Linked DNA regions of Homo sapiens: region 2 is linked to region 1. Evidence: fine-mapped expression QTL. A gene starts in region 1. The other region holds a variant in brackets. All regions are shown on one strand. Distances are from middle to middle. Region 1 holds the start of APBB1 (amyloid beta precursor protein binding family B member 1). Region 2 has its middle 4.5 kb from the start of HPX.

What was found. PIP is the estimated chance that this variant, and not a neighbour inherited with it, causes the effect. A credible set is the group of variants that fine-mapping cannot tell apart.
Region 2: its variant is the best candidate, but not a certain one, in a credible set for the expression of APBB1 in whole blood (TOPMed, PIP 0.78).

What each region holds. Positions count from the first base shown.
Region 1 is chr11:6,417,004-6,421,395 of GRCh38, reverse strand. It overlaps APBB1 (amyloid beta precursor protein binding family B member 1), which reads left to right and starts at 2,302. Exons shown (of 15, transcript NM_001164.5): 1 at 2,302-2,411. RefSeq lists silencers at 1,935-2,334, 2,345-2,534.
Region 2 is chr11:6,443,256-6,447,647 of GRCh38, reverse strand. No RefSeq gene overlaps it. Among named protein-coding and RNA genes, the nearest start is that of HPX, 4.5 kb to the right of the region's middle. RefSeq lists an enhancer at 4,224-4,293. The variant G/A (reference allele first, on the strand shown) is at 1,776.

The sequences.
Region 1 (4,392 bases):
GGCCTGAGCCACCACGCCTGGCCATGCCACACACTTTTAAATAACCGGATCTCACAAGAACTCACTCATCATGGGGAAGACAGCACCAAGCCATGAGAGATCCACCCCTACGACCTGAACACCTCCCACCAGACCCCACCTCCAGCATTGGGGATTACAATTCAACATGAGATTTGATCAGGGACAAATATCCAAACTATATCAACACCCATACTGACCTTCCTGTATTTCTCCTGCTACTTGGAATACTTTTCTCTTCTCCTGGCTGACCTCTAGCTCCTTCATCCCTTTCCCTCACTGAATTGTCACTTCCTATGAAAGCCTCCTAAACTTCCCAGGCCAAATTAAGCCCACTCACATAGCTCCCGGTACATCTCCTTCAAGACACTCATCACATTCCTAATTACATATTTAATGTCTCTTTCCCCTGTTAAATTTCAAGCTGTATGAGAGACGGAACTGTATCTTGTTTCTTGACCTGTTGCTAGCACCAAGGACAGTACCTCATACATAGTAATTATTTGATGAAAGAAAATGAATGAATGAATGAATGAGGACACTTTTGTTCTTCTGGGTAATTCTTCTTCATCTTTCAAGAACCCAGGTCAGATGTCATTTCCTCCAGGTGAGATGCAGTCAAATCTGATTCGTCTTTAGATCCCTAGGGCCTGGCTTGGGACCTGATACATGGTTCATATATCATAGGCATTTGTCAAATCATTATAAACTATTGGTTGTGAATTCATAATTGTTGAAACTGAATGATAGGTATATGAGGGTTCATTATATTGTTCTGTCTGCTTTAGTATATATTGGAAATTTGCCATAATAAAAAGTTAAAACATTTATATTTACCACAAGTAAAATAAAAGTATATTCAAAGATGACTTTGAAGCTTCTGGCTTGGGAAGCCAGTAGTTGGTGTCATTCATTGGAATGGATGGAATGGAGTTGTGTCCAGTGTGGGATGTGTGTTGTGTTGTGTGTGTTGAAGAGGGTTCTTTTTCACCCCAGTGAAACTCCTTAAAAGACTAATAAAGGGGGATGAAACAATAAATTGAGGCTGGACACTGTGTCTGACGCCTGTAATCTCAGCACTTTGGGAGGCCGAGGTGGGAGGATCGCTTGAACACAGGAGTTCCAGACCAGCCTGGGGAACACAGTGAGACCCCCTCTCTACTAAAATACAAAAAGCCAGGCGCGGTGGCACATGTCTGTGGCCCAGGTACTCCGGGGGCTGAGGCGGGAGGAATCTGAGCCCTGGAGGCTGAGGCTTCAGAGAGCCATGATCTTGCCCCTGGGTGACAGAGTGAGACCCTGCCTTGAAAGAAAGAACGAACTCAGATTTGGATATCTTTAGTTTTAGGCACCTGAGAGGGATTAGCATGTAGAGGCTTTCTGGATGGTAATATAACCTCTCATTATCCTTGATGGCCTCTGGGTCACTGATCTGACCATTGGGATGTATCCCACTATCCAGGGAGGGTCTGTAGTAAGTATTGCACCCCACCATCTTCCTTACATCTTTACACTTTTCATTCACAATATCCCCTTCCTTGTGAATTTCTACCGGGGAGCAATGTATTCTTGACATTTTCCAGGCCTTGATGTCAGCTTTATGCTCAGCAGCAGAGGTATTTCAGTGTCAAGAAACATCGGAGTTCCAGTCTAAATTCATCACTAACTGTGACTGCGGGCAAGTCGCTTTACCTCTCTTAATCTTAGCCTCAGCCTCTGAAAAATGAGGATAATAATTCTGGTGATTTTACAGAGCTGATGTGAAGATTAATGCGCGTTAACGGTTTAATAGAGAGCCCGGCACGGTGTAAGTGGTCAATAAATACGAGCTATTATTATGAGCAACGCTGTGTCCTCAGAGCCTCCCCACCAGGACGTCAGGGAGCGGTGCAGCAGGAGCGGCGCAGAGTGCCTCCCGGGAATCCTTCCCCGCGCGGCCGCGGCGCCGCACAGCCGCCGCCATTCGGGCTCCAGCCCCGTCCGCGCGTCTCCCGGCGTGGGTGCGGGACCAGGGCGCTGCGGGGCGCGCAGGGTGAGTCTGTGGAATAGTAGTGGAGGACGGCGCCGCGCTAGGCGGGGGTCCCAGGGAGTCGGCTGCAGGGGTGTCTGCTGGGAGGGCTGGACCGCGGGGCTCACCGAGGTCCGAGGGCCGCCCGCAGGGTGAGGCCCCCAAGAAGCTGCGGCAAGTGCCGCGCCCGCCGAGCTCGCTCCCGCGCCCGCCCCAAGATGGCGCCCCTCCCCCTCCCCTTGCGCGCGCCTCCGCCGCTCGGGGCGCGGCCCCGCGGCCCGCGCGCTCCTGGGCGGGGGATGTTGTGATGGAGAAGCCGCGGCGGAGCCCGAACCCCGCAGCCTGAGCCACCTCCGTCATCTGGGCCCGGGGCCTCACCGCGCAGGTAGGAGGTGTCCCTGCCCCGGCCCAGCCCCGGTGGCTGCGTCCCGATCACCAGCGGCCGGCGGACCCTGTAGCCCCTACCCTGCGGCAGCCCGGGTCCCCCGGCCGGCCCCATCCCCCATCCCCGGGTCGCCCTTCCACCGCGCGCCCGCAGACCGTCCTCTCATACCCACCATCGCAGGGTCCACTCGGGCCCTCACACCGTCCCTTCCGCTGCCCTTTACCTCCTGCCCCTCGGGGTGACTAGGGGCGGGTATGGAGGACGCGAAGCGAGGGGCAGTGGGTGTTGGGGGAGGGGAGGCCCAGGTCCGGGAAGGGGACGTGGGGTGGGGTGGGCTGGCAGGCCGCGCCGATTCCAGCAGGGGTCCCAGGCCCTGGATCTGTCAAGCCGCATTCTGTTGCCCTCAGCGACCGAGGGGTGTGCCCTGGGGCGGCTGTGTCCCCAGCTCAGCCAGGAGGCCTAGCACTGCCAAGAACACTGATTAGAAGCAGTTTTCCCACTGCCAATTCCTAACCTGTTTTGTATCGGCCTGTGTATCTCTTGCATTCTGAGCCCCTCTAGCTATAGTCCCAGCTCTCTCCGCCCTTCAGAGTCAACGCTTGCTGTCTTCATTTCCTTACTTCCCATTCATTCTTAAAAGCACTCCACTCTGTGTCCCTGACACCCACTGAAACTGTCTAGGCCAAGGTCACCGGAGACCTCCTTGTGGAGAACTCCAGTGGACACTGTTATCTCCTTTACCTTTGAGTAGTATTCGGTGGGGTATGTCAACTCACTCTCCTTGAAGCATTTTCCTGCTTTCTGCCCTACAGCATTGTCTGCTCTTCTCAATCTCATTTGCTTCCTCTCCTCCTCTCTTTAGATGCTGGTGAGGCTCTTGGCTCTGTCCCGAGCTGTCTTCTCTCAGTATCTGTTCTTTCTCCCCAGATATTTTATCTACTCCCAAAGCTTCAAATTTCATATATATGCTAATGATTCCCAAATTTATATATCCAGCCCAGACTTCTTTCCTGAAATCCAGACTCATATGTCCAGCTGCTCTCTTGACATCTCCTTGAAAGACAAACAGGAGTTCCAAACCTATAGATTCCAAGCTAAATTATCTTCTGTGGTTTTCTCTGTACCCCACTTCCAAATCTGTTCTTCCTTCGAATCTCAAAAATGGCTCTTTGCCAATCTGGAGTCATGAGCAAGACTTGAGATTAACCCCTCTCTCACTCTCTGCATCTCATTTCACCAAGTTCTGTCACATCCACTGCCTAAATATTTCTCAAATCCATTCATTTCGCTCTTTCCTCACTGCCACCAAAGTTAATCTGGGCCACCACCATTTTTTTTCCTTGACTACTTTAATAGCATACCCTCTTGCCTACCTCCCTTTAACTGTTCTCAACACAGTACCCAGAGTAATCCTTTGAAAAATGCTTCCAATCACTTATTCATGCAATAAATATGATTTCAGCACCTAATATATGCCAGGCACTGTGTTATGTCCTGAAGATATAATTGTGAGCAAAAGAGACTGAGTCCTTGGAGCTGACAATCTAGGAGAAAAATCAAATAAGAATAACATTACAAATGTAATATGTACCATGAAGAAAAGCTGTATGGTGCCTTGAGAACGCACAAGAGCAGTAGCTAAACTGGTCTCGGGGATAGGGAGAGAGGGTTGGAGGACAGCTTCTCTGAGAACATGACGTTTGAACTAAAATATAGTGGATGAGTAGAAGTTAATTCAGCTTAGAGAGTAGGAGAAGAGGTCCCAGGAAGCATGGAAATCACATGCAAACACCTTGTAGAAGGAAAACACATGTCTTCGAGGAATCAGAAGAAGGCTACTGAGGCTGCAGAGCAGTGTGACCAAAGCCAGGGGCAGGGAGGAGGAAGGCAGGCGCCAGACTGAGCAGGAAATTTAGGCCATGTTAAGAATTTGGTCTTAAGGGCCAGGCGTGATGGCTCACGCCTGTAATCCCAGCACTTT
Region 2 (4,392 bases), 26 kb before region 1:
ATGGAAAGTCTTGGTTATGCTTACCTCCCTGGTCCTCTCTGCCCCACTAGCTGAAACCTGACAGATAGGCCAGGCACAGTGGCTCACGCCTGTAATCCCAGCACTTTGGGAGGCCGAGGTGGGTGGATCACCTGAGGTCAGGAGTTTGCGACCAGCCTGGCCAACATGGTGAAACCCTGTCTCTACTAAAAATACAAGTATTAGCCAGGCATCGTGGTGGGTGCCTATAATCCCAGCTACTTGAGAGGCTGAGGCGGGAGAATTGCTTGAACCTGGGAGGCACAGGTTGCAGTGAGCCGAGACTGTGCCACTGCACTCCAGCCTGGGCAACAAGAGCAAAACTCCATCTCAAAAAAAAAAAAAAAAAAAAGAAACCTGATAGATAGGTGGAGGGACCGATGAGCTCCCTGAAGATTTTAGTGCAGGTGCTCTTATGGAGCCTGCCCCTCTGGCTCTGATTGTGAGTGGAATTGCCTAAGCCCATGCCCTGGTCAGCCGAGATGGTGTGCTCAATTATCAGTCGCTCAGCACCAGTGGAGTCCTCCCCGAGAACTCTCAGGTGATGGTCTATTTTTCTGCACCCCTATCTTGAGCAAGGCACCAGAAGTAATACAGAATGGAAACTCAAAGCTTCCAGCCCTCAACCTGTCACATGTTTACATTGTGAACACCTAAAAGTAGCAGGGGAATAAAAAGGCAGTAAGGGTGACCTTCCTTGGGCGGGATGCTGCAAATGGCTCTTCTGCTAGCCCAAGAACAGGCTGCTAGGGCTGATTTCCATAGATTCAGATTAGGTAGTCTTCCCATGCCATGGAAAAGGTACATCAAGGTGGAGTCATTCTGTTCCTTCTAAATCCAGCCGTGGTGGGCATTTTCTTTCCAATTCAGGCCTTGGGGCCAAGTAGATGAAAGTAGTGCCTGACAGTGGAGGCCAAGTCTGGAATGATTGTCACAGATTTGGGGGTCACAGCAAAGCCCCTGCTGTCAGAATGTTATTTTGTGGTCCTGCAAGGGTTCACACTTTGCTCATATAGGGCTGTCTGGTGACCAGAACAGCCCTATGGCCATTTGTGGTCTGCGGGTTCATTTATTTATTGAACAAGTATTTGTTGAGCACTTAATATTAGACAGAGTAATGGGCCCTGGGAATACAGAGAAATGGTCCCTGCCCTTATTAAGCTTATAGTCTAGTGGAGAAGGGAGACAAGTAAGCAACAAGGAACTAAATGTGTAATAACAATTTGAGTTCAAGCTGTGAAGGAAATGAACAGAATACAATGATAGACAATATAGTGTTAAATAGAGTGGACAAGGAAAGTCTCTTTAAGCAGTGACCTGTAGGGTTGGAGCAGGGTGGGTAGGGAACTAGCTGTGTTAAGAAAAGGAGATAGAGATTTTCAGACAAAGGAAAAACAGGTACAAACATCCTGAGGGGTTGAGATCTTGATGTGTTTGAGAATCTGAAAGGAGGCCAGGGTGACTGGAGAGGAAGGAGGGTGGAAGGAGAGAGGAAAGGAACAAGTTTGGAGAATTAGGCCTGACTTCGATCATTTAACTAAGATAAAGAGCTTGGATTTGGTCTGGAGTATGACAGTAAGCCACTGAAAAGTTTAAGTGATAAGGATGAAAGGGATGCCCTGTGAAACAAACTTTAAACTGGGCAGTGATTCTGTGGGGTAGGAAGAGAATTGAGAAAGAAAATCAGAAAACAATTCAACTTCTCTAAACTGTTCCTCTTGAAGACTGTGTATACATTAGAATTACAACTGACTTCG[G/A]CCAGGTGCAGTGGCTCCCGCCTGTAATCCCAGCATTTGGGAGGCCAAGGTGGACAGATCACAAGGTCAGGAGATTAAGACCATCCTGGCTAACACGGTGAAACCCTGTTTCTACTAAAAATGCAAAAAATGAGCCAGGTGTGGTGGCAGGCGCCTGTAGTCCCAGCTAATCGAGAGGCTGAGGCAGGAGAATCACTTGAACCCAGGAGACGGAGGTTGCAGTGAGCCGAGATCGCGCCACTGCACTCCAGCCTGGGTGACAGAGTGAGACTCTGTCTCAAAAAAAAAAGAAAAAAAAAAAAAATTACAACTGACTTCAAGAAAAAATTTTAAGCAGGAGCATAAGGTGATCTCAGATACGTTTTTAAAGATCACTGTGGTTGTTATAAAGAATGTGTTGTAGAGGAGCTATTTCAATGGTCACACAAGAAAAGGTGGTGTTTGCATTACTAAAGAGGCAGAGAGAAATGGACAGATTTTATGTATAATTAGGAAGTAGGAATAATAGGATTCAATATTTATTAAATACATACAGTATTTCAGGCGTGTTCTCAGTGCTGAAGATATAGCAGTGACTAAAGCAGGTAGGATCCTTGTCCTGTACACAAAGGCAGCATGGTAGACTGTGGGGTGCTGGAGCTGGCTCATGAGAGCTGATTGTCAAATTTAGAATTTTGAGAGCTGGTTGTTAAAACACAGCTATTATTAAAAATCAAACTATATAAACTTAAATACATTCTATTAAAACCAAAGATAATCAGTACTTAAAAGTAATCACTTCCTAATTATTTTACTACATTTTACTATCCCCTGTGCTCTTGTGATTATTTATATCTATCATATCTGTATGGTAGGAATATTGTATGCAGTGTGTTACTGTACATCCCTTCCCAACTCTACATTTGGTGATGTCTTGTCGGTAGCTTAAAGTTGGCCATGGTAGGAGTATTTATATCACAAAAATCTGCAAATGTTACAAATCAGTGCTTTTTCCCCCTAGAGAGCAGTTGTTAAATATTTGCCAGCGAACCCCTTGATAAGAACACACTATCCTTGTAGGAACACACCCCTAGGAGTCAGGCACCCAGGGTTTAAATCATGGCTCTGCCACTTGCTAGCAATGTGATTTGGCTAAGATACCTAATATTGGCTTCCTCATTCATAAAACGGGACTCATAGTGCTACCTTTGTCTGTTTGTGCTGCTATAACAAAATGCCCATGACTGATGATTTATAATGAACAAAAATGTATTTCTCACAGTTCTGGAGGCTGGGAAGTCCAAGATTAAGGTGCCCAGCAGGTTTGGTGTGTGGTGAGGTCCTGGTCTCTGCTTCTATGATGGCATTTTGAACGCTGCATCCTCTAGAGGAGACAAATGCTGTTCATCACGTGGCAGAAAAGCAGAGGAGAGAGAATCCACTTCTGAAAGCCCTTTTTATAGCAGCATTAATCCATTCATCGGGCAGAGCTCTCATGACCTAAACACCTCTCATGAGGCCGCACCTCCAAACACTGGCACATTGGGAATTAAGCTTCCAACACATCAATTCGGAGGGGACAGAAACATTCAAACCATAGCAAGTGCTATATACATGCTATATATATATATATATAGCACTAAGGCCCATTATAGACTGAGCAAGAGGAGGGGTCAGCTGGGATCAGCAAGCTCTTTGGCTGCCTGGAGCTTTATCCCTAAGCCTCCTACCCCTGAGGAAAGGAGACATTCAGTTCCTGCTCCCTGGAGTATACAGCCACAGACTTCAGGCCCAGCACACCTAGCACTCAGTGGGCCCAGGAGAAATGGCTAAGGTCAGAGAACTCATATCAACAGCAGAGCAGGCTGGACATAGACATAGCCATTCCAAGGGACAGTGGGTCAGTGTCCAGCTTACATCTGGCTCTTGGCAATGCAGGAGGAAGCTCTGTCATTTGCAGACATTTGCAGGTTCGTGTTCAGACCCCTTCTGGGAGAAGTAAAAAAGCTGCTGGTTAGGAGGATAGAGAAGACTACCCAGGAAAAGAGATGGTTGAATTTCTCTGGGCTCGAGTTCCCAGAGAAGCAAGAGATTGAGGTCCCCAAATCCACTCTGGGCAGCAAGGTTTGCAGAAGAAGGGAAAGAAGCATAGAAGGGTGTGTACCACTAAGGATGCACAGCCAGGGCTGAGAGGAGTGTGGGACAAAGGCTGTGGAGAGCTAGTTTCAGAGAGGAAAAACTCCTGGGCTCTGGCCTCTAGTTGAAGGGCGGGAGTGCACTGATTCCTGCGGCCTGCAGGGGGTGCTCAGGCCCAAGTACCGACAAGCTTCTTTCCTCAGCCCCAGTAGGAAGCCTGGGAAGGACCCAGGACCCACAGAAGGGGCCTCCTGTAGTGAGGGGAAGAGAAGCAAGGCTGCTGAGTCTTGACTACCCTGAGAAGTCTTGGCTTGTACCCTGTGACCAACACCAGGGTGGCCAACATATCCACAGCCCTGGGTTCCCAAATGTGTACAATGTTCTACTTTCAACTCCTGCCCAAAACTTGAACTTCAACCTGGACTGCCTGCAGTGCAGATGACTCTGCTGGCCTAGTCCCTGGGTGGAGCAGGAGGATCCAGTAATGGTTTCTAAGCCATTC